4 linked regions of the Homo sapiens genome follow. The protein of the gene in region 2 purifies or fractionates together with the protein of the main gene of each other region. This does not show direct contact. Each region holds a gene or a part of one and is shown on either strand. Other genes may lie near its edges.

The links.
Region 1: the proteins of COPS7B (region 2) and CUL4B purify together in Homo sapiens (affinity purification with mass spectrometry; 7 studies listed by BioGRID and IntAct, with this or other methods). This does not show direct contact.
Region 3: the proteins of COPS7B (region 2) and CUL4A purify together in Homo sapiens (affinity purification with mass spectrometry; 9 studies listed by BioGRID and IntAct, with this or other methods). This does not show direct contact.
Region 4: the proteins of COPS7B (region 2) and DCAF1 purify together in Homo sapiens (affinity purification with mass spectrometry; 3 studies listed by BioGRID, with this or other methods). This does not show direct contact.

What each region holds. Positions count from the first base shown.
Region 1 is NC_000023.11:120,557,963-120,566,046, reverse strand, and holds the start of CUL4B (cullin-4B), read left to right. Parts: upstream 1-5,084; 5' UTR 5,085-5,408; coding exon 5,409-5,964; intron 5,965-6,148; exon of another isoform or gene 6,149-6,246; coding exon of another isoform or gene 6,247-6,268; intron 6,269-8,007; coding exon 8,008-8,084.
Region 2 is NC_000002.12:231,796,387-231,803,524, forward strand, and holds part of COPS7B (COP9 signalosome complex subunit 7b), read left to right. Parts: intron 1-2,472; coding exon 2,473-2,578; intron 2,579-4,521; coding exon of another isoform or gene 4,522-4,551; exon of another isoform or gene 4,552-4,715; intron 4,716-4,753; coding exon of another isoform or gene 4,754-4,821; intron 4,822-7,138. UniProt on the Homo sapiens protein: Component of the COP9 signalosome complex (CSN), a complex involved in various cellular and developmental processes.
Region 3 is NC_000013.11:113,254,484-113,261,621, reverse strand, and holds part of CUL4A (cullin-4A), read right to left. Parts: intron 6,930-7,138; coding exon 6,824-6,929; intron 6,670-6,823; coding exon 6,497-6,669; intron 1,016-6,496; coding exon 863-1,015; intron 1-862. UniProt on the Homo sapiens protein: Core component of multiple cullin-RING-based E3 ubiquitin-protein ligase complexes which mediate the ubiquitination of target proteins. As a scaffold protein may contribute to catalysis through positioning of the substrate and the ubiquitin-conjugating enzyme.
Region 4 is NC_000003.12:51,489,909-51,497,046, forward strand, and holds part of DCAF1 (DDB1- and CUL4-associated factor 1), read right to left. Parts: intron 6,873-7,138; 5' UTR 6,826-6,872; intron 2,606-6,825; exon of another isoform or gene 2,481-2,605; intron 1-2,480. UniProt on the Homo sapiens protein: Acts both as a substrate recognition component of E3 ubiquitin-protein ligase complexes and as an atypical serine/threonine-protein kinase, playing key roles in various processes such as cell cycle, telomerase regulation and histone modification.

The sequences.
Region 1 (8,084 bases), on a different chromosome or scaffold from region 2:
GAAGAAAATGGACTGCCTGGGCCGGGCGCGGTGGCTCACGCCTATAATTCCAGCACTTTGGGAGGCCGAGGCGGGCGGATCATGAGGTCAGGAGATCAAGACCATCCTGGCTAACATAGTGAAACCTCATCTCTACTAAAAATACAAAAAAAAATTAGCTGGGCGTGGTGGTAGGCGCCTGTAGTCCCAGCTACTTGGGAGGCTGAGGCAGGAGAATGGCATGAACCCGGGAGGCGGAGCTTGCAGTGAGCTGAGATGGCGCCGCTGCACTCCAGCCTGGGTGACAGAGCGAGACACTGTCTCAGACAAAAAAAAAAAAAAAAAGTAAATGGACTGCCCTTTACCTAGCAGTTTTTTTTTTTTTTTTTTTTTTTTTGCACTCTGTCACCTAGGCTGGAGTGCAGTGGTGCAATCTCGGCTCACTGCAACCTCTGCCTCCCGGGTTCAAACAATTCTCCTACTTCAGCCTCCCAAGTAGCTGGGACCACAGATGTGCACCACCAGGCCTGGCTAATTTTTGTATTTTTAGTAGAGACAGGGTATCGCCATGTTGCCCAGGCTGGTCTCAAACTCCTGGCCAAGTGATCCACCCACTCTGGCCTCCCAAAGTGCTGGGATTACAGGTGTGAACCACTGTGCCCAGCCGTTTTTTCTGTTTTGTTTTGTTTTGGTTTTTGCTTTTTGTTGTTGTTTGTGTTTTTTTAATGCATTCTCAGAAACATCTTCAGATTCTCCTGGGCAAGCAGTCTCTCCCATTCCTAAGGAAAATCCCACCCATTGGATAGGAAGGCTTCCAGGAGTGTCTGTCTAGTGGCAAGCCACTGGTATGAGATATCTGGAGAGGACCTAAAGCACCCCAGATGGCTATAACTGTATGGCGTCCTACATTACACATCTTGATTCCCCAAGCACCCTGGGGAATCCCTGTGATCAAAAAGGGGAAATGGGTTACACTCTGCCTTTTTAGGGAGATGTCCACAGAAATAAAGGAATTGACATTGTAAAAGCTAGCTCCCTGTCTTTGTTTGTATTTCTTCCTTTACACATATACTTACCTTTATAAACAGCTTGGTTAAAGGTGGCCAATAATAACTACACTTCATGTGGCAACATTGTAAAGTTTAATTAATGTTTCTAAGGTATGAGTTGAACTCACAAGATGAAAGATCCTAAATATGGAATATGTGTTAAGTGCCCAGTCTGGTTTAGTCTGATAATGGCTATAATTGTATGGTGTCCTACATTACACATCTTGATTAGTGTGGCTCCCGTGAGTTCAACCTTGAAAATGTATTTTAATGTTGAGAATGTGTTTAACGTTGATTGGCAAACATTTGGGTGTACAGAATATACGCTTATGTTCTTCAACTAGCCTCAATTAGTTGGTTCTTGATGTAAAAGATATTTTACAAACCAACTTGGAAGGTTTTTGTTTTTTTTTGAGACAGACTCTTTCTCTGTTGCCCAGGCAGGAGTGTAGTGGCACAATCTCGGCTCACTGCAACCTCCACCTCCTGAGTTCAAGCGATTCTTCTGCCTTATCCTCCCGAGTAGTTGGGATTACAGGCACCTGCCAACGTGCCCAGATAATTTTTGTGTTTTTAGTAGAGATAGGGTTTCACCATGTTGGCCAGGCTGGTCTTGAACCCCTGACCTCAGGTGATCGGCCCGCCTCAGCCTCCCAAAGTTTTGGGATTACAAGCCTGAGCCACCTAGCCTTGTTTTTTGTTTGTTTGTTTGTTTTTTGTAACAAGGTCTCACTCTGTCACCCAGGCTGGAGTGCAGCAGTGTGAGCTTGGCTCACTGCAACCTCTGCCTCAGGTTCAAGGGATTCTTTTGCCTCAGCCATTTGAGTAGCTGGGATTACAGGTGAACACCACCATGTCCGGCTCATTTTTGTATTTTTAGTGGAAACGGGGTTTCACTATATTGGCCAGGCTGGTCTGGAACTCCTGGTCTCATGTGATCCACCCATGTTGGCCTCCCAAAGTGCTGGGATTACAGGCATGAGCCACCACGCGTGGCCAGATCTGTGCTTTTTAAAACCAACATGTAACTCAGAAGACTGAAGGGCTTAGATAACCATGTGAGATAGGGAACTATTATTACTAGAATGTAGTTAAATATTAACAGGACTCAGCTATCATTTAGGTTAGTAGAAAAGTTTATCTTTGTATGGCAAAAGCAGCTTTCTCTTATCTTTATGTCCATTCCCTTTCAGTTGCACTAATATTTGTAATTTTTTAAAATGGCTAGCACTTCATATACCCTCCTAAAGATTTTAACTACATGAATTAGAACAACCTTGTTCATTAAATCCTGAAAATGAGTCAGTTAATCCTCCCTTATAAAGACACAGCATTATTTTATTCACATGCAATGAAATACTCAATTCAATAAGCATTTACCCTGCATTTACAGTGGTTCAGCATTTTGTGAACTGTGAGACACGATAAAGGAAAGTTCAATGTATTAAGGTGTCTTTCCTGGCCTTAAGAGTTTACTGTTTCTATTTGGGCAGCAAGAACTATATGGTAGGCCCAGCACTTTGGGAGGCTGAGGCAGGCGGATCACTTGAGGCCAGGAGTTCGAGACCAGCCTGGCCAACATAGCAAAACCCTGACTCTACTAAAAATACAAAAAAAATTAGCAGGCGTAGTGATACATGCCTGTAGTCCCAGGTACTCAAGAAGGCTGACGCACAAGAATCGCTTGAACCCGGGAGGCAGAGGTTGCAGTGAGCCAAGATTACACCACTGCAGTCCAGCCTGGGCGACACAGCAAGATTCTGTCTTCAAAACAAAACAAAATGAAAAAAACTATGTGGTATATTCAAAACAGATAGGAGTGCTTCCATCTGTCTCCTTTCAGGCCCCCATCTCCCTTCTCAGCGGTTCTAAGTTCCATTAGAGCCTTGCTTTCAGCAGGCTGTCATCAAATAGCAATGATATTGTCTAATAATGCCAAAGGTTGATTTGCATTTTAATCAGGGACTTTTCAAGACACAAAAACAAGTGGGCCTGTTTAAACAAAGTTAGAAAGTTGATTTATTTGCAGGGTTCTGATTCACCTATCACAAGGTATACCATACAAGCTGCTTTTACTCCACTCACAATCCTGTCACCCCTGGTTTGTAAAAGCTCTGCTTGCTGGATTGTCTCCCTGCTATCTATGATCGCCTACAGAGTAGACTCCAAATTCTTGGCTTGGTGTGCCAGGCACTTTTGAGCCTCATCTTCCTTACTCCCAGCCAGACATCCTACTTCCCAGCCTCACTGCACTTTCCATGTTTCCATAAACAGGCCTGGCCCTTTCACTCCTTGCTTTGCCCTTGTTTCCGTTCCCCAGAATGCCTTTCATCCTGTTCCCTCTTCTCTTTTTGGCAACTCCCACTTTGAGACACAGCATAAACATAATCTCTGTAGAACTCTTCCTATTCCAGATTTCTCCCAAATTTCTTGTTTTGCCTCTTCTGACAGCACTTTGTATATATGTCATATTATTGTTATGGAAATTAGTTTTGAAACTATCTTCCCCTACTGGCTTCTCAAGGGCAGAGACCTTGCATAGTCTTACCATACATGCTAACTGAATGCTTTTGCAGTTAGAATGATCAACAGGTTGGCAAATTTAGTTTTTGATATTGTGTTACCTCCCTCTGAGAATGCCCCAAGGTTAAGTAAAAACTCCCAACAGGGAATTTACAAGGTTTATTGTTGCTAATTTAACCAAACTTAAAGATTTTTTAAATCAATAATCAATTGTAAAGCATGGGGTCATGAAACACATTAGTAGAAAACACTGACTTTTGCCGATATGGTTCTAAAATGTCTCCTTTGGGACAGCGTGTAAACTGAGATTTGGCAAAAGAAGGAAGTGGGTCTTAGCTTTGTTGGGTCTATAAATTACTGAGTTAAGGACTGATAGAGTGGGGGTTAGGACGATCCTGGGCATAGTGCTGGGTGGGTGAGGGGTTAGTTACCTTTCCATTTCTTCGCCTTAGAATACACACTTAATTTGGCCAGCCAGCTTAGAAAATGCTCCTGGTAGTAAGATAAAAGGATTTACAGCTACATGAAAGAGAAAGGCATCAAAATTCAGGCCTTATTCAGCCTTGGGTCTGTGGTGCCTTGAGATAAAAGAGAAACAATTTATACCGGCACCGAATTAAAAAGTCCTTTTCTTCCTATCTTAGCTCGTTTTCTTCTCCTTTCCTATCTTAACATAGGGACATTCCTCTCCAGCAGCGGGCATAATGGCATGATTATGTTTTCCTCTATTTAGGGTTACTCCCCTAGCCTTGCAACCACTCCTTATTCTTTCATCTCTTTCAAAGTTTCTATTCTCCCGGACCCTTACGTTTTATTCCGTCCCTCCCTCTCTCCTCCTCTTCCTCCTCCTCCGTTTTCCCAGCTAGCTCACTCCGCCCCTCGCCGTCACTACCTTCCCTCCCCCGAGGCTCCTTCCCGCTCCTCCCGCCACCCCCCCCACCCCCTCGCCTTCAGAAAGCTCCAATCAGGAGCTCCGAAGGTGTCTCGAAGGCCCGCCCCCTCCTCCTATCCACTTTTCTTCCCCCCAATTTCTCCCTCCCCCCTTCCCCCCCCCACTCAAGTCCTGCGGACCTGGGGGCTTCGGGATCTGGGCGCTATGAAAAGTGTCTGCCCAGTCACTTCCGGTAAGGGCGCTGCGGCGCGAAGCTTCCCGCGGGACCGTTAAGGAGGGAGTGGGAGTTCCCGGTGGGCCAGGGAAGGAAGGCGCTGCCAGGAAAGGGGATCGCGAAGGGGAGCGGGAGCAGGAGCGAACTAGCGCGAGCGTCTGGGGCACTTTAGCCGCCCCTTTCCAGCCGCCCCCTCACGCGCGAGCTCCCCCGCCCCCCGGGCGGCTGCAGCGCTTCCCTCACCCCCACTCCCTGAGGTTGACACCGCCCCTCCCTCGGCGCCGCGTGACCGGAAATGGCGCCATCTTTAGCCTCTTGTGCTATTGACAATAACAAGCCCTGGTTCTTTCCCCCTCCCCCTTTCCCCCAACCACAGCCTCTCCCCTCCCAGGGAGAGGGAGAAAAGGAGGAGGAGCTGCAGCCTCACAGACTCGCTGAGTCGCTCCTGCAGAAAGGGGGGGAGAGAGATCGAAAAGCAGGGGAGGGGGACGGCACGGCCGTTTACCTGTCTGCCTCCTCATTCGCTCTCCCCCCTCGTTCTGCTCACTCCTGGTGTCAGCCTATCCGCCTTCCCAAACCCTCCCATTCCCCCGGTGTAGCCCCCCCCTTCACTTTCCTTCTCGTCCTCTGTGTTTCTCCTCTCTTCTTTCTTCCCTTCCCCCTCTAGCATTGCTACCTTCTCTCCTACACGCACGCAGGCATATAAACGTAGGTTTTTGATGCTCCTCTGCCTGTTGACCCCGCTATTTTCATGTTTCCAACAGGTTTTTCTTCCCCCAGTCCCTCAGCTGCTGCTGCTGCTCAGGAGGTCAGATCTGCCACTGATGGTAATACCAGCACCACTCCGCCCACCTCTGCCAAGAAGAGAAAGTTAAACAGCAGCAGCAGTAGCAGCAGTAACAGTAGTAACGAGAGAGAAGACTTTGATTCCACCTCTTCCTCCTCTTCCACTCCTCCTTTACAACCCAGGGATTCGGCATCCCCTTCAACCTCGTCCTTCTGCCTGGGGGTTTCAGTGGCTGCTTCCAGCCACGTACCGATACAGAAGAAGCTGCGTTTTGAAGACACCCTGGAGTTTGTAGGGTTTGATGCGAAGATGGCTGAGGAATCCTCCTCCTCCTCCTCCTCATCTTCACCAACTGCTGCAACATCTCAGCAGCAGCAACTTAAAAATAAGAGTATATTAATCTCTTCTGTGGCTTCGGTGCATCATGCAAACGGCCTAGCCAAATCTTCTACCACCGTCTCTAGCTTTGCTAACAGCAAACCTGGCTCTGCTAAGAAGTTAGTGATCAAGAACTTTAAAGGTAACCAAGGCCAAAATCCATAATCACCTAATAAGGATTTGACACTCGAGGGGTCACGTGCTCTATTTATGTTAATATATTAAACAGTTTGGAGGTGGCCTAATGTTTTATGCATAATCAATGAGGTGGAGGGGAGGTCCTTTTTTGGTGGAGGGTTCATTTTCCGGGGGTGGTTAGGATCCTTGTGCTGAAGCATACACCGGGTGTTTCTGTGCAGTATTTTGAGGTCTTTTTCAACCTATTGTATTTAATCTGTTATTCCTTATAACACTGACAATCGGTATGATTGATCCGGATTTTGCAGGTGAGAAATTTGTATTCTAAAGAGGTTTATTTATTTCAGGTGCATAGCGAGCCTTGGCATTGCTGGGATTTTTATTTTTATGCTTCAGTAGGCCACATTATCCAATGCCTAGAAATGCAGGTAGCAATAGTGATCTTTTTATGCTCAAATAAGATTTATAATTAGATTTATACTGTATTCATGAAACTCATTTGGAAGGAATATTTGAAGAAAAATTTATGTTCTCTGCATTTCTTTCCAAAGGTAGGGTTTGAAAGTGAAAAACATTGTGTATACACAGAAGTAGTAACTCTGTGTACCACTAGTCTAAAGATAGGAACAATTACTACATCTATTTTTTCCATCACTAAAATGGATTTTAAAGTATCGACCTGCAGCTTTTAGGAAAATTTGTTCAGACCGTGTTTGAGATATGTGAGGAGAGTATTATGAATACATTGAGGCAAATATAAAATCAGCAATTTTTAAAAATGTATTTGAGCTGAATTAATTTTTATTTGTTGAATGTGTTTCTGTTTTTCTGACTTACTTTTTCAACACCCGTAACTGCCAGGTAATCAGTGCTACAGTGTTTATTAAATAGAGAAGTAAATGAATGAACTTAAGTAATATTTATGAGATAAGTGCTTTGTGGCTGAATATTAGTATTGAGAAGATTAGGTTCTCTATGCTTGTGTTTTTAACATTGTGTGGAAATCAGGAGTATGCTCTATTTTGTCTCAAGCAGAGGGCTATGGTGTTGTCTATTTTTAACCCTTTCTTTTTTATATCACTACCTTCCCATACCCAGGCTCTCAGTTTCTGATTTAATAGTAGAGCTTTCTGAAGTCAATATGAATTGTAATTGAGTAACGTTTTCATTATTTCACTTAAAAATATATGGATTTTGTAGCTAAAGATTTTTAAATGAGTTATGATCCTGGTTGCATTTTCAAATTGGTTTCAGAGATTTTTTTCTCTCCCTCCTAAAATAAAAGCATATTATTAAGGCATTTGGATATTCTAATTAAAACTTTTTTCCCCACACTCATTGCTAGTCAGTGAAGTTTAAAGCCTAGAGTAAGATGTTTCTTTCTATTCTGAAAATGCAACATGGTTTCTGGAGTCATTTCTTTCAGTCTTTAAAAATTTCACTCTGCTCGTAAATGTAGTTTAAAACCTGAGTTAAGATGTTTCCATTTCTATAGATGCTGCATAAATGTGGGGGTCAAACAGACCTGAATTAGAATCCCAGCTTTGCCATTGACTAGCTATGATGACCTTGGGCAAGCTTACTAAATGAGTTCCAGCCTCAGTTTCCTCGGTTGTAAAATAGATTCCTCAGGGTATTGTTGGGAAGATTAAGAGGCTTATAAAGTACCTTGCACATAGACAGTACTTTAAATCTCAGGTTAAAAATTCATGTCGACTTAGGTTTTACACATGATGAAATAAGATCAGGATTGTTATTTTTTATGGTCATTCTTGAATTTTTATTTTTTTGAAGCAATACAATCAATAGGAGAAAAACCTCACCTTCAATTTTAATAGGTGAGTCAAAATGACTTAAACAGTATTATGGCATTTCAAATTTTATTCTTTATATTAAGCTTAAATACAGTGGTTACTTTAATGATTAGGTGTAATAGTTATAAAGATCACAATTTACCCTAAAATTAGTAATGCTATTATATTTTATGAATCTTTGGTTACTGTATCTGACATGGTATTCTGATGCCAACCTTTTACATATCATCTAGATAAGCCTAAATTACCAGAAAACTACACAGATGAAACCTGGCAAAAACTGAAAGAAGCAGTGGAAGCTATTCAGAAT
Region 2 (7,138 bases):
GCTGAGGGTTTGGGGTGGGCCTGTAGCTACCTGGGAGCTGGGGCTTAGTGAGCCGGAGAGTGGAGCTACATTTGTGATCACAGCTGTGTGATAACAGGAGTCATTTCAGGCCTCCTGGTGCCTTGGTTGTAAAATAGTTCTTTCCTTAAATGCAACTGGGAGCTATTTAAAAGTGGGCTATAAAATGCCCAGGGTTAGCAGGTGGAGCCTATGTGTCCTAGCTGTGTGAGGCTAGTCCTGCCCTTTCCAAACTCACGCTCAAAGTTTGACCAAACTCAGGAAGGCTAGTGTTTGTAAGATTCTTTCTTTGTTTTTATTATTTTTTCTATCCCTGTTGAAGTTAACATGTTTATAAGATTCTTCGGATAAAAGAACTTACGTTCAAAATCAGTAACATATTGGGCTAATGTTTGTAAAACACCGTGAGGGACATGGAAGACAAGGAGTGGGTCATTTTAACTTGGAATACAGACTCATACAAAGAATATCTGATAACTATACTCTGGTATATAAAAAGCATTGGGACATTTGTGTTTTCTCTGTTTTAATGGAATTTGATATTTGTAAGAGCTGTCTCACATTCTACGAGGATTCACTGTGGAGTGATTTAAATTATTTGGGGCTTATAAAGCCAGATGGACTGATTGGAGAAGTTTTAGCTCAGTTTTGAAGGAAGGCCAGGGTTAGAGTATACCTGGAGGTGAGGAGAGTGTGTTCCCAGGCAGGCACGTGGCATGTTGGAAGCCATGAAGCAGACCCGGTGAGCTTTGTACACAGGTTCGGGAGGGAGAGAGAATCTCTGCTCATCCCCGAGAGAAGCATATCCAGAGAGGAGCAGTGCCACTTTGACTCCTTGGGGCCTGATGTCCCCTGAGTTTCCCTCACTTCAGCTACTTTTACACCCCAGGACATGTGTTGCTCACCCCTCACCCCAAGTTCTGTCCCAAATATAGCCCCAAACACCTTCTCTATACAACATCTGCCACAAGTGGAAGTTTTCAATAGCTTACAAAACTTAGAATAAATAAGAAATAAACTTAGAAATACCCCAACACAAAAATGGTCTGGCACACAAAATCTAGTTTCTGAACCTGCCAAAGTTGGCTGTCCTATTCTGTTTTTGAGATGGCTGACACAGCTTTTTATGTCCATAGTCTGGTTTCCTGTTTTTAAGCCCCCAATATGTTTGACATAGAGGTGCCAGACTAACTGGTTACCATGGGATGTTTACTAGTAGAAACTCTTACAACTCATGTTTAGGCACTGGAGGTAGATTGAAACAAAATTCATAGGCTGAGGGCTACCACATATATGGCAAAATGCTCACACTGTTGGATCTTAAGTGGAGGGTATGGGGATATTCATTGTAGTCTTTCAACTTTTTCATTTTTAAAAAAATTAATAGTGGGGAAAATAGGAGGAGGGGTATGGCAATTAGGAAGTAACTTAAACTTCTGAGAAAAGGCGGAATCTTCAAAACAGGATGCTTTTAGGAAATCTTTTTTTGTTTGTTGTTTTTTGAGACAGTTTTGCTCTTGTTGCCCAGGCTGGAGTGCAATAGTGCGATCTCAGCTCACCGCAACCTCTGCCTCCCAGGTTCAAGCGATTCTCCTGCCTCAGCCTCCCTAGTAGCTGGGATTACAGGCGTGTGCCACCAGGCCTGGCTAATTTTGTATTTGTAGTAGAGACGGGGTTTCTCCATGTTGGTCAGGCTGGTCTCGAATTCCCGACCTCAGGTGATCCGCCTGCCTCGGCCTCCCAAGGTGCTGGGATTACAGGCATGAGCCACTGCGCCTGGCCTAGAACATCTTTTTTTTCTGTTGAGAAAAGGATTACTCAGTGCCATCTATAAAATCTATTCTACCTTCTTTTTTTTTTTTTTTTTTTTGCGGCAGAGTTTCGCTCTGTCACCCAGGCTGGAGTGCAATTGCGTGGTCTCAGCTCACTGCAACCTCCGCCTCCCGGGTTCAAGTGATTCTCCTGCCTCAGCCTCCCAAGTAGCTGGGATTACAGGCACCCGCCACCACACCTGGCTAATTTTTGTATTTTTAGTAGAGATGGGGTTTCACTGTGTTGGCCAGGCTGGTCTCGAACTCCTGACCTGGTGATCCACCCACCTCGGCCTCTCAAAGAGCTGGGATTACAGGTGGGAGCCACTGCACCCGGCCTGTCCTACCTTCTTTAATCGTATGTGCTACAAAACCATCTTCCATGAGATACAAAGTTGAAAATTAAAGCTGTATTCTAAGAAACTAGCCCCAGACTACCATATTTGTCTCCTAATGTCCTGCATTATGTATTTAGAAGTGCTTGTCTTTGGGAAGGAGTGAACGGGCAAGAGATGTGGCAGAGGGAGTATTAAAGGAGGTCCCTGTAAGATACTGGGGAGAGCTGTTGGGGAAGAATATTTCTGAGCCTGGAAGAGACTTCCCAGGCCATTCTGCAGCTCAGGGCTGGTTTTCTCCATTGTAGGTGTGATGGCTGTGAAGCAGTTCTACTGGGCATCGAGCAGCAAGTTCTGAGAGCCAACCAGTACAAAGAGAACCACAACCGAACTCAGCAGCAGGTAGAAGCAGAGGTAAGGAAGGAAAGGAACATTTGTTTCTCTCTCCAGGCATACCTGTTTATTCGTTTGCAGTGTTTATGTTTTTGTTTTGCGAATCTTGGTGTAGATGAAACAAGCAGTCACCAACAAGTGGGCCTGGGCTAGGTGCTGGGTTACAGGGATGAGTGTGACACGGCTCCTGCTCTTGGTGTTCTGTCTCTTTTTTCTGATTCCTGGTCAGCATAGGGTGATCAATCAGGCTTGGAGAACAGAGAATGTTGTAGTTTCAGTACACATGTACTTTGCAGCTATAGAGCAAAAGAAAATGAGTTTGGGGATGGATCTTAAAAATGGATAGAAGGATGGTGGTAAGTTACCAGGTGGAGTGGAGGGAGGGGTACAGCTGGGCAGGGGCATGTGGGGCTTCAAGGCCCTGGGAGTGTTCTGCTTCTTAAGTTGCGTGGTGGGCACATAGTTTCATTTTATTCTTTCTCTGTGAACTGTACATATATATTATAAATGTGTAAAATGCATGACATGTTTCATACGGAAAGAAGAAAGGGATAAAATTTGGCAGATGAGCTGCAAGTGAAGTAAAGAGGATGTAAGTGTGGTTTTAGTGACACCTGGTTGTTGAGGAAACTTTTAGCTTCTTGGACAGATGTAGGCCCCAGCCTTTGCGTTATGGGCATTTGTGTACCTGTAACCTGACACATGAAGTGACCTCACTTCACAATTTATTTGGAGCCCTGCACTGATTTTCCTTAGCATTGGAAGTTCTTTTCTAGTGTGAATGGAGTTTGAAGTATTAATGATGCTTAATGAATTTTGAAAATCAGGTGTCTAAGAGTGGCGGAGTGGGACCCGTAATTCCAGCTAAGAAGCATAAGAGATGAGTAGATGGTGCCTTTCAAAGGGGGATTTGTGAAATTTGGAGTGATTCTCTATACTGTTATATGCACTCCTTGAAAATAAAACCTGTGTCCTATTTGTAAGACGAGCGTCTTGTCTCATGCCTAACCCATAGTAGGTACTCAAATGTTGAACTGAATATTTCTGGCACACCATAAAAGTGTGTCAGTGGACTGCTGAACTCTGCTTTTCATGAACTTGAGCTAATTTTTTTGAATACACACACACACCACCCTATATACATATACTCTGTGGATGTTCAATTCATAGACCATGTTTAATCCGACTAGCCAAGGAAGTATGAGGCTGGGTGCAGTGGTTCACACCTGTAATCCCAACACTTTGAGAGACCGAGGAGGAAGTATTGCGTGAGTCCAGGAGTTCGAGACCAGCCTGGGCAAGGAAGTGTTAACTATATTTAACATTAGTCCAAAGCAAAGACAATTAGGAAAATAAGCTTGCTGCTTTTCTAATAAGCTGTGCAACAACCCTCTTGATGATGGTGGCCTTTTCTCTGACTTGGGATTGAGGTCTGAACAAAGTAGGAAGGGCTAACCGCTTTCTCCTTTCTGTTTATTCTTCCCTATAAATCAAACTCTGTACAAAATGAGGTTGGGAGGCTAACCACACTACCTAATCTTTGGTATCAAGGTCATTAACAAAGATGAATGATACTTGTTTTAGAATTTTGAACTGTTCAAGTTTATTTTCATTATAAATAGCATCAGACAAAAGAAAGGCGGGTGTGCACAGAGCTATTGTAGACACTTGGCTAAAGTTTGAGGCACACCGTGTAGTTACACAACAGTGTAGACTCTTTAAATTTTGGTTATTTAAACACAGAGGGTGGGTGTGTGCACGAGCAGAGCCTGGTGCTGCCAGCAGGTGGCGGTAAGGATTTAAGTTTGAGAAAAAGAAATCTGAGCAAAAGGCCAAGGCCACCTCCACCACCAATTAAAACAGTCCATTGACGTAATAATCTTTTAGAAAATCTGAACCAGACCAATATGGTCTGTTCCCTGAGCATGGCCAAAGCTTAGGACCTTGTCATTTTTTCCATTTAGCAAATGCATGATCTGGCTGCTAAGTGTTGAAGGCTGCTTGCCACCTACTTGAGGCACACAGAAGATACTCACCAAATAGCTACTGACTTGAAAGGAAAAGAAATCTACAAAGAATCAGGGTGATTCTGTCGTATTCTGTTTGTATTTATGCCTCTGTTACCCTTGGCCTAACTTTTAAAAGCCAATTTTGTCAACTGATTGGTGATCTTTTCTTTATTTGTCCTTAAATTAGATTGCTTGTTTTCAGAGGGAAAAACGTGATGTCCCCCTCCTGAATCTTATAACAACAGCTTTCTTCTGGTGAGTTGTAGCTTTAAGAGCCCTCCTTCTTAATGAAGTCAGCCCTATCACAGACTGCCGAAGAATATTCTCTCCATTTAGGCTTTTGTGGAAATAACCCATATTAGTTCCTAGTTCCAGCATACCTGGGGGACCATTATGAGCTGTTTCATTATTTCTGAGGAAGCACTGTGGTGGGGAGGTAATACTTAGAGCATTACAAAGCACTTTCACATTTAAATTTGATTTTGGAAAGTATTTTCTTTTTGAGACAGAGTCTCTGTCACCCAGGCTGGAGTGCATGGAGTGCAGTGGTGCAAACACAGCTCGCTGCACCCTCAACCTCCTGGGCTCAAGCAGTCTTTCCACCTCGGCCTCCCAAGTTGCTAGGACTATAGGACTACAGGTGTATGCTACCACACCTGGCTGATTTTTTTTCTTTTCTTTTTTTTTTTTTTTTTAGGGAGAACTGGGTTTTGCTGTATTATTCAGGCTGGTCTTGAGCGCCTAACCTCAAGCTATCCTCCCACCTCTGGCTCCCTCTTTGTTGGGATTACAGGCGTGAGCCACCATGCCCAACCTACTTTTCTTTTTTTCTTTTTTGAGATGGAAATTCACTCTGTTGCCTAGGCTGGAGTGCAGTGGCATGATCTTGGCTCACTACTGCAACCTCCGCCTCCTGGGTTCAAGCAATTCTCATGCTTCAGCCTCCTGAGTAGCTGGGATTACAGGTGCCCGCCACCACGCCCAGCTAATTTTTGTATTTTTAGTAGAGACGGGGTTTCGCAATGTTGGCCAGGTTGTTCTCCACCTCCGGACCTCAAGTGATCCGCCTGCCTCGGTCTCCCAAAGTGCTGAGATTACAGGCCTGAGCCACCGCGCCCGGCCTCATTTTTCTTTATATTTGGATGTGCCTATGTCTGATGTTAGGTGGAATGTTAATTTATAACTATTGCTACATTTACAAAGTAGGCTGTGTTCCAGTCATGGAGGTCGTAAAGTGTAACTGGACAAAGTAAGCTCTGTTTTCCATTATGTAGAAAATCTCCTAGGAGTTAGTGACAATCTTGAGATTTATACAATGCACCAAAAGTATGCTTCCTGGTACCTCTTGGAAAGGGACTCTCCATCACCCAGTTCTCTTTTTCTTTGTAGCACTTTTCCAGTTGTGCACTGTGTTTCCTCTCGTCTGCCTTTGCTTTGCCCCTCAACTGAAGGAAGGTTTCCTGCCCCAGAAAGCTCTTTCTCCTTTTGCCTAAATATTTAAGGTCTCTGATGGAGCTAGGCTGCATTTTTGCTAGCAGTGCAATCTTACTTGAAAATTTCTGAGGTTCATGTTTTGAGGAGCCTGTAAGCCAGGCCACTGGAGGAAGAAAGTCATAAGGAACTCTACCAAATTTAGGTAAAAGAAGACAAGTCTGTGGTGATGATATTTGTTGTCAGTTGAAGGGTGACTGTGGAAGAGGAATTGGAATTCTTAAGAAAGTCTACGAGACCAGAATGGGTTTAATTGGTTGACCTACCTGGGTGGCCAATTTGGAGTCCTAGAAGGAGCTGTCTGCGGTTACAACTGCCCAGCTACTGGAAGAAGCTAGTTGAATTTTAAGATCCCCTTCCACTAGGAGAGTCTGTCAGTGCTTCAGAAGTCTCGTTTGTGAGTTGTGTGTTGTAAATGCAGTGGTAAAGCTGACTTGAGCAAAGTGTCTCTGTAATGGATCCCAGTGTGAGGGCCATGGCCCTGCCCCAGCCCAGGCCAGGCCTTTGTGGAGGATAAAAGGCTCATTTCCTAGGCTTAGAGACACTTGCCCAAGAAGCCCTCTTTTCCTCTGCAGGATGTTTACATTTTGCCTCAAAGTGGTAACGACTGTAGAGGACTTAGATTTGTCAGCAGTCTTATTGGAGGAGTGAGGTGTGTGCATCTGAAACACAAAGGAGATGCAGTGGTGTGGGAGGCCATCGAAGAGGGAGAGGCACTGCCAGGCAAGTACAGATTGAAGGGTGGCAGATCAGTGTGGGCTGCAGCAGTCAGGGCAGTTTGTATGGACCAGGTGCTCAACTCTCCAGGCAGGATCAGAGGGGCAACCTGGGGAGGAGCGGTAACCCCCGGGGTGCATGAACAACAGAAGGGCATAGGGGGAATGACTGCTTCCAAGTGTGGTGTGGGGGACGAGTGTGGCTGAGATGGCTTGAGTGCAGGGCATGTGTTGAGGAGTGGGAAGGAAGGTACCTGATCTTGGTATTTCAGAACTAGAGAAAAAACCAAGTTTTTCCCTGGGCCAAGTCTTATTTCTTTTTATTGCATGTCAGGGTTACTGAGCCCCTAAAAAAGCTGAATGAG
Region 3 (7,138 bases), on a different chromosome or scaffold from region 2:
TGCAGTGGCAACAGGAGACTTGCTCCAGCTGGTGGGAGGAAGGGGCAGTGAACCTGATGGTGCTTTTGGAGCTTCCCAGGGCCCTGAGGACGGCACCTCACCTCTGCAGGGAAGGGGGCAAATGTGGGCTGATGGACAGTGGCACTTCCACCAGACTCTTAAGTGTTCGACTATTTAGTGCATCTCAACTTTATTCCCTTGATGGAATGGGAGGCTCAAACTGCACAACATGGAATCTGGGGACTTTCCCTCCAAAGCACGTGTGGCCGGTCCTGTCCCTGAGAGGCCAGGCGTCATCAGAGTTCAGTATTTCCTGGGTTGATAAATACATGTAAAAAACGTTTCATAATACTTTCCCGGCTTATCCTGCATCCCACACGTGGCAGGACAGTAAATCTCAGTTCTGAAAACAACGCGGGTTGACAGGCCTGGGCTGACTTTCATAAGCAACAGCAACAGTAGACTATTACCGTGGTGGAAAACGCGGTGTAGGCTGTAAACGCTGAGTAAGTTAGTTATTGTTATCATTTCCTTAAAATCTTGTGATGTAACCTTGACCGCTACTACTATGAGAAAAGTGTTCAGCTTTCCATGTCCCATCTACCTCTTCCCTTCCTGAAAATATGAACAAGCGCGCACCATCCCTGGGAAGGAGAGTTTTAGGGCTCTATCATTTCTGCAGTGGCAATGAGCAACACCTGGAATAAAGAGCTTCACATTTGCCAGTTTTTCTACATTCAGTGTATACACAAAGCACCATGAATAATGCAGGTCAAATGATATGACTGAACATAGAATTAAACATGCTTTGTCAATTGTTTAGCAAATACTACAAATTTAATTATGCTAATGTTACATTTACCTTTACTGGAAATTTCAGCTGATTATATAATTCAGAAACTAGAAGATTATGACCAAGAGTCTTTCTCATCTTCATTATTCTGACGATAGCAGCATCAATCTGATATTGTCTATCCTGAAACACTCTCTCAGTGGTGCTAACCTGTTCCTCAACCTGTATAAAAAAGAAAAAAAAAGTTAAGTGTAAAACTGTATTTTCTTTTTATTTTTTGCGATGGAGTCTCACTCAGTTGCCTGGGCTAGAGTGCAATGGTGTGATCTCGGCTCACTGCAACCTCCGCCTCCCAGGATCAAGCGATTCTCTTGCCTCAGCCTCCCGAGTAGCTGGGATCACAGGCACCTGCTGTCATGCCCGGCTACTTTTTGTATTTTTGTACAGGCAGGGTTTCACTATGTTGGCCAGGCTGGTTTTGAACTCCTGACCTCAGATGATCCGCCCACCTTGGCCTCCCAAAGTGCTGGGATTACAGGTGTGAGCTACCACACCTGGCCTATATTTCAATATTAATGACCTGATGTTACCGAATTTGATGGGAAATGGTTTTTTTTTTTTTTTTGAGACGGAGTCTCACTCTGTCACCCAGGCTGGAGTGCAGTGGCGCGATCTCGGCTCACTACAAGCTCCGCCCCCCGGGTTCACGCCATTCTCCTGTCTCAGCCTCTCAAGTAGCTGGGACTACGGTGCCCCCCCACCATGCCCGGCTCATTTTTGTATTTTTAGTAGAGACAGGGTTTCACCATGTTAGCCAGGCTGGTCTCGATCTCCTGACCTCGTGATCCACCTGGCTCGGCCTCCCAAAGTGCTGGGATTACAGGCGTGAGCCACCGTGCCTGGCCGGAAATGTTCTTTTGATGCAAAGAAAGGTCAGACATTGGATGAATCCTACTTTATTATGCATGTTTACTTGTTGTAGTAAAAGGTACCTTCCCAGAATAGCAAAACTCCAAAACCAAAACTTAAAAAATATTTTTAAAAGTTATTTTCCTTATAAGAAAGCTGCAACAACTCTATGTGTGATGTAGATTAAAACTAGCAGCACAGTAAACAAAACATAATGACCATCAGGATATATTCCAGAAATGTTAAGTGTTGATCAACATTAGGAAATCTGTGAATATAAGTGAGAGCACTGTAGCAGTTGAAAGGTTAGATTACATGACCATCTTGATAGATGCTGAAAAGGCATGATAAAATTGATTTTTTGATTTAAAACAAACATTAGCATACAAGGATGAATAAAAAAGCATCTGAACATGATAAAACATGGTTATCAGAAACAAACAGCAAATACTAGAGACAACTTAACCTTAGTCCAACAGGAACCTGATGGGGATCTGCAGTTGAAATGAGGGCTGGGGGAAGGTCTGTGCATACATATGAGGCAAGTATGCTTCAGGATGGGAGAGACTCCAAGCTTTCATCACATTTTCAACAGGATCCATGACCCCCAAAAAGTTAACATCCTCTGAACTAGAGATAAAATTAGGAAGCTCAGCTGCACTGCTATTCCTTAAAAACATTACTTTAGAGGTTCTAACTATGCAATACAGGAACAGACTAAAGAGGTATATTGAAAAGGTGCAGACAAAACGATCATTATTTGTAGATGAGCTGGAAAATCCAAGAAAATCAACAGAAAAACTTTCAAAGCTAAAGAGTTTTGTAAAGTGGCTGGAAATAAAATAAATATACAAAGACAAATAGCATTAATACATACATTCTGATAAAAACCGTCAGAAATGTAAAGAAAAAAGGTCCCCTTTATAAGATATCAGCATTTCATTAGCCTGTCTTGCTTAAAACTCTAGTGGTTTTCCAAATGCTTCATGGATCTGAGCCATCTTCAGAGGGTCCAGCTGTGGCTCCCTGATCAGGCCTGTCTGGCTCAGCTTCCCCTTTTGGCAACGATGCTGCAGCCAGAGGCCTTCTTTCAGTTCCTGAGCAAAGCTAGTCACTTCTTCAGGAAAGCGTTGGCTGACGACAGTATTTAATTAGACTCTCCTGCACTTCTCTATCCTAACATTTTCCTCCACTCTTACAAGTTAGTCAATGTGTGTGATCCTCTGCTACCTCTCTGCTGGAAAAGACTGAACACTCCTAGAAACAAGGACTTATTCTTTATTGTTAATGGATGAATTCTCAGTGCTTCACAGAGGACCTGGGCCACCACAGATGCTCAATAAGTATTTGTTGAATGAATGAAAATTTATGACTAGCAAGAAATATGCAAGACTTACAGAAGAAAACTAGAAAGCTCTGAGAAAAAGATTTGTATGTATTTACATATATACACATATGTATGAATCACAAGATTTAATATGATAAAGATAAAAGCTCTGTAAATTAATGCAATATGGATTAAAAATGTCAATGTTCTTATTTGGGGGAGCAAAGGCGTGATACAATTATTGTCAAGTTCATTGGAAGAATAAAGTTATAGGAATAGCTACATTAATTAAAAGAACCTGGTGCCGGGCACGGTGGCTCACGGCTGTAATCCCAGCACTTTGGGGGGTCAAGGTAGGAAGACTGCTTGAGCCCAGGAGTTCAAGACCAGCCTGGGTAACATGGCAAGGCCTCATCTCTACAAAAAATACAAAAATTTAGCTGGGCGTGGTGGCATATGCCTGGGGCTGAGGTGGGAGGATCGCTTGAGCCCAAGAGGTTGAGGCTGCAGTGAGCTATGATCACACCACTGCACTCCAGCCTGGGCGACACTGTCTCAAAAAACAAAACAAAACAAAACAAAAAAAATGGCTGGCTATGAAATAGACACAGAATTTATAGAAGAGAATTGAGAAACTGACCTATATGAATTTGATACATAATAAGGTGATAATTCAAATAACTTGTTCAAGGATGATATTTTAAATTTGGTTTTGGAAAGGATGGGGGCAGTTAGACTGTTTTCAGATACTAAAATAATTTCTGCAACATGAAAAGAAAGATTTAAATGTAAAAACTTCTAGAAAAATAACATAGTATAAATGTTTTTTAAAACTCTGGTTAAGGGAATTTCTCTCTTAGGCCAATGATATGGTTTTGAATATGTGTCCCCTCAAAATCTCATGCTGAAATGTGGTCTCCAGTGTTGGAGATGGGACCGGGTGGGTGGGGGCAGGTCCCTCATGAATGGCTTGGGCCCTCCCCTTGGTGATGAGATCTGGTCGTTTAAACATGTGGGGCACCTCCCTCCCTGTTCTTGCTCATGCTTTTGCCACGTGAGACACCTGCTCCCCTTGCACCTTCCACCATGACTGGAAACTTCCTGAGGCCTCGTCAGAAGCTGAGGTGATGCTGGCACCATGCTTCCTGTACAGCCTGCAGAACCGTGAGCCAATTAAACTTCTCTTCTTTATAAATTACCCAGTTTCAGGTATTTCCTTATAGTAATACAAGAATGGCCTAATACAGCATTACACGTTAAGTCAGAAACCATAAAAGAAAAGGAGACTATATTTGAGAACTTAAAAACTGTTATGTGAAAAAAAAACCAATAAAAACAACAAAATTATCTGTCAAAAATGACAAAGCAGGCTGGGCATGGTGGCTCACGCCTGTAATCTCAGCATTTTGGGAGGCCGAGATGGGTGACTCACCTGAGGTCAGGAGTTTGAGACCAGCCTGGCCAACATGGTGAAACCCCGTCTCTACTAAAAATAGAAAACTTAGTTGAGTGTGGTGGCACATGCCTGTAGTCCCAGCTACTCGAGAGGCTGAGACAGGAGAATCGCTTGAACCCGGAGGACGGAGGTTGCAGTGAGCGAGATTGTACCACTGCACTCCAGCCTGGACGACAGAGTGAAATGCAAAAAAAAAAAAAAAAAAAAAAACGAAAAAAAAAAAGGGACAAAGCATTAATATCCTTAATATATAAAGAAAACCTACTAATCAGTAAGAGAAAAAACATTATAATGAATGCATATGACTTGAAAAGCAATTAGAAAAAGAAAAATACAAATGGCTAAGCATAAAAAGAGCAGCATCAACATGTATGAAGTGCTTACAGGTGTGTGGCAAAGAGCTTTCTAAACGATTCATTTAATTCTCACAACTTGAGGTAGTAGTATGTCTATTTTAAATATGAGAAACTGAGCATTAGAAAGATTATATAATTTGTATAAACTACTGAGTGGTAGAAAGATGCTGTAAAGAATCAGAAATCAAAATGAAAACTGCAACAAACTATCTTTGGGCTGCTCAGAACAGGGTGAGCGAAGGACAGGTGGAGGTGGGGGCAGACACTGTGCTCTGGTGAAATCTGCCAGACTTCAACTTGGAAAAGAGCAAACTAAGACAAGTACACATTATTTTACCCAGCAGCTCCAGAGCAAGAATCACACTAAAGAAACAATCTAACAAGTGCACAGAAATGTCTGTGCCAGGGTGTTGAACGTAATCTTATTTTCAGGAGGGGCAGTGGAGGAATGTTAGTGCCTGTGGCCGAGGGCACTGCCAGCCCTGGTGGGTCTACACAACCGGCACTGTGCTCCTGCAACAAGTCCTGGCCAGGAGAAGACTGCGATCAGCAACGAAAACTGGCTACAGGAAGGCCCTGACAGGTGCCATATGTACAGTGATCCCAGGTGTTTTTTCTTTTGTAGAGTTTGGGGTCTCACTGCATTGCTCAGGCTGGCCTCAAACTCCCGGGATCAAGCGACCCTCCCGAGTAGCTGAGACTATGGGTGCATGTCACTGTGCCTGGCTTAGTGATCCCACTAAAAAAAAAGTTTACATACACTCACACCACAGAAAAAGGCTGTGACCACAAACAAAAAGGGCAGTAGTGGTTACCTTCGGGAGAAAGAACTGATAGACCTTCTCACTTTTGCCCACTATAAAAGGTGCACCCTCAAAGGAGTTAAAAACTTAAGTCCACATAAAAACCTGCACAGAAATGTTTATAGCAGCTTTAGTCATCATCACCAAAACTTGGAAACAACCAGATGTCCTTCAGTAGGTGAAGGGATAAGTTGTGATGCATCCAGACAACGGAGAATCCTTCAGTGCAAAAAGCAGAGTTACCCAGTCATGAAAAGACACGGTGAACCTCAAATACGTTCTAATAAATAAAGAAGCCAATCTGAAAAGGCTATATACACTATGACTCCAACTGTACGGCATTCAGGAAAGGGCAAAACTATGGTGACAGTAACAGGGTCAGGGGTTGCCAGGGGCTCGGAGGGAGACAGGGATACAGCGACAGAACATAAGAGAATTTTTAGGGCAATGAAACTGTCCTGTATGATCCTATAATGGTGGATACATAACATTATACATTTACCCAGACCCACAGAATGTACAACACCAAGAGTGAACCATATCAGATTCTATTACCATAGAAAGTGTGGATAATTTTCGAAACCCTATGACCATGGGGAGTTCTGGCTTAGCACACAACTTTTTTGTGAATAGGAATAACATTAAGTGGCTTTTTTTCTGATTTTCTTTCCTACTGAGAATGTGAAGTTAATGAAAGCGACAGGAAAATGAGTACTCTTATAAACATTACATAGTGAAATTGGATTATTGTAGAAATGTGCTTCAGGCCTCTAACAGCCAAAAACATTACTACAAAAACAAATGATTCCCTGCTAAACCCCCTATAAGTAAAAAGAGAAAGTTTATACATACAGTTTCCTTCATCTGAATTTGATTGATCTTTATTCTAAACAACTTGTGCTTGAACTCTCCATTAAAAATGAACTTGTCTCCATCTTCCACTTCCTTTCCTTTGGGACTTTTAATCAGCACACGTGCTTTGCCACAGGCCAGGGACTGCAGCGTTCTGCGCAATTCACTATCCTCTGAATGGGAAGCAAATGCAGGCAAAGGCTGGCGTTAAACGAATGAGACTCAACAACAGTAAACCAATCATGCTACCAAGTCTATGTCTTATCTTAAAACAAATACATGCTTTAAGAACAACTCATGGAGCTATGCACTCTGCAGTTTTCGTACCTATCCCCGTGGCCATTTTTATCTCCTCAAAGCTGAAGCCATCTCCCTCGTTGAACATGAGGAGCACCAGTGTCTGGAAGAGGGACACCTGGAATTCCTTCTTCCCCTGGAAGAGAAGGCCTCATCACACCTCTGAAGCTGTGCATGTACAATCTTTGAAAAATTAAAAGAAGCTTCTTTTTGCTCTCAAACTTTTTTTTTTTTGAGAAGGAGTCTCGCTCTGTCACCCAGGCTGGAGTGCAGTGGCACAATCTCAGCTCACTGCAAGCCCCACCTCCCGGAATCATGCCATTCTCCTGCCTCAGCCTCCCGAGT
Region 4 (7,138 bases), on a different chromosome or scaffold from region 2:
GACATAATCCTGTATACAGAAAATCCTAAAGAATCCACATAAAAATTATTAGAATAAATGAATTCAGCAAAGTTGCAAGGTACAAGAGCAACACACAAAAATCAGTTGTACTGCTATACACTAGCCAAAAAACAATATGAAAGTAAATGAAGAGAACAATTTCATTTACAATAGCACCAAAAATAATAAAATAATTAGAAACAAATTTAATTTAAAAGGCACAAGGCCGGGAAGGGTGGCTCACACCTGTTAATCCCAGAACTTTAGGAGGCCAAGGTGGGTGGATTGCTTGAGCTCAGGAATTCAAGTCCAGCTGGGGCAACATGGCAAAACCTAGTCTTTACAAAAAAGGCAAAAAATTAGCCAGGCATGGTGTGCACCTGTACCAGGTATGCACCTGTACTCCCAGCTACTCGGTAGGCTGAGGTGGGAGAATCACCTGAGCCCAGTAAGTTGAGGCTGCAGTGAACCAAGATCGCACCACTGCACTCTAGCATTGAAGACATAGCGGGACCCTGTCTCAACAACAACAAAAAAGGCACAAACACAAGACTTGTATGCTGAAAACTACAAAACATTGCTGGAGTCAATTCATGATGACCTAAATTTTAAATAACCTAAATAAACAAAAAGACATTCTGTGTTCATGGATTAGAAGGGTTAGTATCAAGATGGTAATACATTCCAACGTGGTCTACAAATAAAATGCAATCGCTATCAAAATCCCAATGACAAACCAGGCATGGTGGCTCACGCCTGTAATCCCAGCACTTTGGGAGGCCAAGATGGGTGGATCACCTGAGTTCAAGAGTTCAACACCAGCCTGGCCAACATGGTGAAACCCCATCTCTACTAAAAATACAAAACATTAGCTGACCATGGTGGCAGACGCCTGTAATCCCGGCTATCTGGGAGAATGAGGCAAGAGAACCACTTGAACCCAAGAGGCAGAGGTTGCAGTAAGCCGAGATCGTGCCACTGCACTCCAGCCTGGGAGCAACAGAGAGAGACTCTGTCTCAAAAAACAACAACAACAAAAACAACCCAATGACATCTTTTGCAGAAATGGACATGCTGATTCTAAAATTCGTATGTAATTGCAAGGAAACCTGAATAGGCACAACAATCTTGGAAAAAAAAAAAAAAAAAACAAAGTCGGGGTCAGGCGCAGTGGCTCACACCTGTAATCCCAGCACTTTGGGAGGTCGAGGCAGGTGGATCACAAGGTCAAGAGATCGAGACCATTCTGGCCAATATGGTGAAACCCCATCCCCAGTAAAAATACAAAAATTAGCTGGGCGTGTTGGCACGCACCTGTAATCCCAGCTACTGGGACAGCTGAGGCAGGAGAACCGCTTGAACCTAGGAGACGGAGGCTGCAGTGAGCCAAGATTGCGCCACTGCACTCCAGCAAGGCAACAGAGCGAGACTATGTCTCCAAAAAAAAAAAAAAAAGTTGGAAAAATCACACTTCTGATTTCAAAACTTGCTACAAAACTATAGTAAATGGAACAGCATGGCACTGACATAAGGATCAACACAGAGACAAATACAATAGAATTGATAATCCAGCAATAAGCACTCACATCTATGATCAATTTTCAACAAGGGTACCAAGACCATTCAATAGGAAAAAAGTAATTTCAATAAGTAGTGCTGCCCAGGTGCAGTGGCTCATGCCTGTAATCCCTGCACTTTGGGAGGCCAAGACAGGCAGATAACTTGAGCAGGAGTTCGAGACCAGACTGGCCAACATTGTGAAACCCCATCTCTACTAAAATACAAAAATTAGCCAGGCATGGTGGCGCGCCTGTAACCCCAGCTACTCAGGGGGGCTGAGGCAGGAGAACTGCTTGAATCCAGGAGGCGGAGGTTGCAGTGAGCTGAGACAGCGCCACTGCCCTCCAGCCTGGGCGACAGAGCAAGACTCCATCTCAAAAAACAAACAAACAAAAAAGTACTGATGAGACTTGGCACAGTGGCTCACGCCTGTTATCCCAGCACTGTGGGAGGCCGAGGTGGGCAGATCACGAGGTCAGGAGATCAAGACCATCCTAGCCAACATGGTGAAACCCCATCTCTACTAAAATACAAGAAATTGGCCAGGTGTGGTGGCACACACTGGTAGTCCCAGCTACTCGGGGGGGCTGAGGGAGGGGAATCGCTTGAACCTGCGGGAGGCGGAAGTTGCAGTGAGCCGAGACTGCACCACTGCACTCTAGCCTGGTGACAGAGCAAGACCCGTCTCAAAAAAAAAAAAAAAGTAGTGAGACAATTGGATATTATCCCACAAAACAGCGAAGTTGGATCTTTGCCTCACAGTATATGCGAAAATGGGCCGAGTGCTGTGGCTCATGCCTATAATCCCAATACTTTAGGCAGATCATCTGAGGTCAGGAGTTTGAGACGAGTATGGCCAACAAGTTGAAACCCCATCTCTACTAAAAATACAAAAAAGAGCTGGGCATGGTGGCAGGTACCTGTAATCCCAGCTACTCGGGAGGTTGAGGCAGGAGAATCACTTGAACTCGGAGGGGACGGAGGTTGCAGTCAGCCGAGATTACCCCAATGCACACCGGCCTGGGCAAAAGGAGTGAGACTTTGTCTTAAAAACAAAAAAAAGGCCAAGAAACGCATGAAAGATACTCAACATCAGTCACTAGGAACTGCAAATCAAAACCATAATGAGATATCATTTCTCACCTACTAACATGACTGTAGTTTAAGAAATGAGAAAATATAAGCATTAGCAAGCATGTGAAGAAACTGGAACACATATTGCTTGTAGAAATGTAAAAGGGTGGCCCCGGGCGCGGTGGCTCATGCTTGCAATCTCAGCACTTTGGGAGGCCGAGGCAGGCGGATCGCGAGGTCAGGAGACAGAGACCATCCTGGCTAACATGGTGAAACCCCATCTCTACTAAAAATACAAAAAATTAGCTGGGCGTGGTGGCAGGCACCAGTAGTCCCACCTACTCGGGAGACTGAGGCAGGAGAATGGCGTGAACCCGGGAGGTGGAGCTTGCAGTGAGCCGAGATCGCGCCACTGCACTCCATCCTGGGTGACAGAGCAAGACTCCCTCTCAAAAAAATAAATAAATAAATAAAAGAAATGTAAAAGGGTATAGTAGTTATAAAAAACAGTTTGGGACTCTCTCAAAAAGTTGCAGGTTTTTTTTTTTAAGTCACATGTAGAATTACTATACGACCCAGCAATTTCACTACTAGATATATACCCAAAAGAACTGAAAACAAGGCTGGGTGTGGTGGCTCACACCTCTAATCCCAGCACTTTGGGAGGCCAAGGCGGGCAGATCTCCTGAGGTCGGGAGTTTAAGACCAGCCTGACCAACATGGAGAAACCCCATCTCTACTAAAAATACAAAATTAACCAGGCATGGTGGCACATGCCTGTAATCCTAGCTACTGGGGAGGCTGAGGCAGGAGAACCGCTTGAACTCAGAAGGCAGAGGTTGAAGTGAGCCAAGATTACGCCATTGCACTCCAGCCTGGGCAATGAGCGCAAAACTCCATCTCAGGGGAAAAAAAAAAGGAATTCAAACAAAGACTTATACACAAATGTTCTTGGTAGCATTATTCACAATAGCCAAAAAGTAGAAACAACCCAAAAGTCCATCATCAGATGAAGAGATAAACAAAATGTGGTATATGCATACAATGGAATATTCAGTCATAGAAATGAATGAAGTAGTAACATGCTACAGATGTGGAAAAACCTTGAAAACAATAAGAAAGCAGACACAAAAGGGCACATATTGTATGATTCTATTTATATAAAACATTGAAGGCTGGGCATGGTGGCTCACACCTGTAACCCCAGCACTTTGGGAGGCCAAGGCGGGTGGATCATGAGGTCAACAGTTCGAGACCAGCCTGGCCAACATGGTGAAACCCCCGTCTCTACTGAAAGTACAAAAATTAGCCGGGCGTGGTGGCATGCGCCTGTAGTCCTAGCTACTCAGGAGGCTGAGGCAGAAGCATCGCTTGAACCTGGGAGGCGGAGGTTGCAGTGAGCCAAGATTGCGCCACTGCACTCCAGCCTGGGCGACAGAGCGAGATTCCGTCTCAAAAAAAAAAAAAAAGTTGAAATAGGTAAATCAATATACAGAAAGCTAACTAGTAGTTGCCAAGGACTTGAGGAAAGGGGAAAATGGGCAGTGACTGCTAAATGGGTATGAGGTTTCCTTTTTTTTTTTTTTTTGAGATGGAGTCTCACTCTGTCGCCCAGAGACTGGAGTGCAGTGGCAGGATCTCGGCTCACTGCAAGCTCCGCCTCCCGGGTTCATGCCATTCTCCTGCTTCAGCCTCCCGAGTAGCTGGGACTACAGGCACCGGCCACCACACCCGGCTACTTTTTTGTATTTGTAGTACAGACGGGGTTTCACCGTGTTACCCAGGATGGTCTCAATCTCCTGACCTCGTGATCCACCCGCCTCAGCCTCCCAAAGTGCTGGGATTACAGGTGTGAGCCACCGCGCCCGGCCGAGGTTTCCTTTTAAGGTGATAAAAATATTCTAGAACTAGAAAGAGATAATGGTTGCACAACACTGTGAATCTACAAACGCCACTGATTTGTACACTTCAAAATGGGTAGTCGTTAATTTTATGCTACGTAAATTTACCACAATTTTTTAATGAGAAAAGAAATGATCCAGAAGAGACTGCTTCTTAGATAACTTAAGCAGTTAGCCTACTAGAGCACATAAAGACATGATTTTTTAAAAAACACTACCTCTAATAAAGATTAATTCAAGGGCATTAAAACACTAAAATTTTATATTTTTAAAATTTTTTAATTTTTATTATTTTGTAGAGACAGGGTCTCACTATGTTACCCAGGCTGGTCTCAAATTGCTGGGCTCAAGCAATCCTCTCCACTTGGCCTTCCAAAGTGCTAGGATTGTAGACATGAGCCACCATGCCTGGCCTAAAACACTAAAATTTTAGAGTTCAACTTAGAAACATATACATATATACTTCTGGTATCATTTTCAGAACTTCCAACTAATCTATGCCTGAAGATAATTATAACTTTGGGAATAACCATTTGCCCAAGGAAAATATAAACCTTAGTGAGACCTTGTCTCTATTATTTAAAAAAATAAAAAATAGGCCAGGCGTGGTGGCTCACGCCTGTAATCCCTGCACTTTGGGAGGCCAATGCGGGTGTATCATCTGAGGTCAGGAGCTCGAGACCAGCCTGGCCAACATGATGAAACCCTGTCTCTACTAAAAATACAAAAAATTAGCCGGACGTGGCAGCAGGCGCCTGCAATCCCAGCCACTCGGGAGGCTGAGGCAGGAGAATCGCTTGAACCCGGGAGGCAGAAGTTGCAGTGAGCCGAGATTGCACCACTGCACTCCAGCCTGGGCGACAAGAGCAAAACTCCATCTCAAAAAAAATATTAAGAATAATAAAGAATAAAAAAATATAAAGGCAAGGCGTGGTGGCTCACACTTGTAATCCCAGCACTTTGGAAGGCTGAGGTAGGAGGATCACTTGAGCCCAGGGGTTTGAGACCAGCCTGGGTAACAGTAAGACCTTGTCTTTATTATTTAAATACATAAATAAAGGAAAATATAAACTTGTAACAGACTAAATAAAGGAAAATATAAACTTGTAACAGACTTAACTAATAATAGCAATGTGAATTAACATAGTATCAATGAAAGCAGTCAGCAACTGAGTGTGGTGGCTCACACCTGTAATCCCAGCACTTTGGAAAACCTAGGTGGGCAGATCGCTTGAGCCCAGGAGTTTGAGACCAGCCTGGACAACATGGTGAAATCCTGCCTCTATGAAAAAAATTTAAAAATCAGTAGTAGTAGTACTTACTTCAATGTTCGTTTTTTTGTGTTTGTTTTTTGTTTTGTGAGACGGAATCTCGCTCTGCTGCCCAGGCGGGAGTGCAGGGACACAATCTTGGCTCACTGCAACCTGTAGTCCCAGCTACCTGGGGAGGCTGAAGCAAGAGAACTGCTTGAGCCTAGGAGGTGGAGGCTGCAGTGAGCCATAACTGCACCACTGTACTCCAGCCAGAGCAAAAGTGCGAGACCTTGTCTCAAGGAAAAAAAAAAAAGGCCGGGCACAGTGGCTCACACCTGTAATCTCAGCACTTTAGGAGGCCAAGGCAGGCAGATCACCTGAGGTTGGGAGTTCGAGACCAGCCTGACTAATATGGAGAAACCCTGTCTCTACTAAAAATACAAAATTAGGCCGGGCGCAGTGGCTCACGCCTGTAATCCCAGCACCTTGGGAGGCCGAGGCCGGCAGATCACAAGGTCAGGAGTTCGAGACCACCTGGCCAACATGGTGAAACCGCATCTCTACTAAAAATACCAACAAAATTAGCCAGGCATGGTGGCACACGCCTGTAATCCCAGCTGCTCCGGAGGCTGAGGCAGCAGAATCGCTTGAACCCAGGAGACAGAGGTTGCAGTGAGCCGAGATCGCGCCACTGCACTCCAGCTTGCACAACAAGAGCAAAGAAAACAGTCATCTTCACCTTGTTATGCCCAAGACAATAAGGGTGCATTACTCAAGTTCTTAAGTGAGTTCCTTTAAGTGCTATGAAGAAATGATGGTCTGTCCAATGGTGACACGGTAGTTACCAATTAGTGAATATCTAGTATGGGACAGACATTGAGCTAAGTAATTTACCATACTTACATTATTCTGAATTTTCACAACCATCCTACCCTTTTTCACACATGAGGAAACTAGCTCAGAGAGGTCCCCAAGACCAGCTAGTACTAGGTAGAAAAAAGGTTTCAAGGATTCAAATCCCAACTCTGCTGACATACCTGTGAAGTCTTGGTTATTTAACTTCTCCAAATCTCAATTTCCTTATCTGCAAGATGGAAACAGTTGTTGTGCGGGGTTAAATGACAATATTGTCCCCATGATGGGATAATATAAAGCCTCAAGAAATACTTATGTAAAATTTTCTTATCCTAACAAGCATCTGCTAGGGTATTTAGGGATGACAGGCCTGCAACTTATTTTCAAATGATTCCACAAAATATATATATAGATACCACACACACAAATAGAGAAAATATGGCATAATATTAACAACTGTTTGCCAGGCACTATGGCTCATGCCTGTAATCCTAG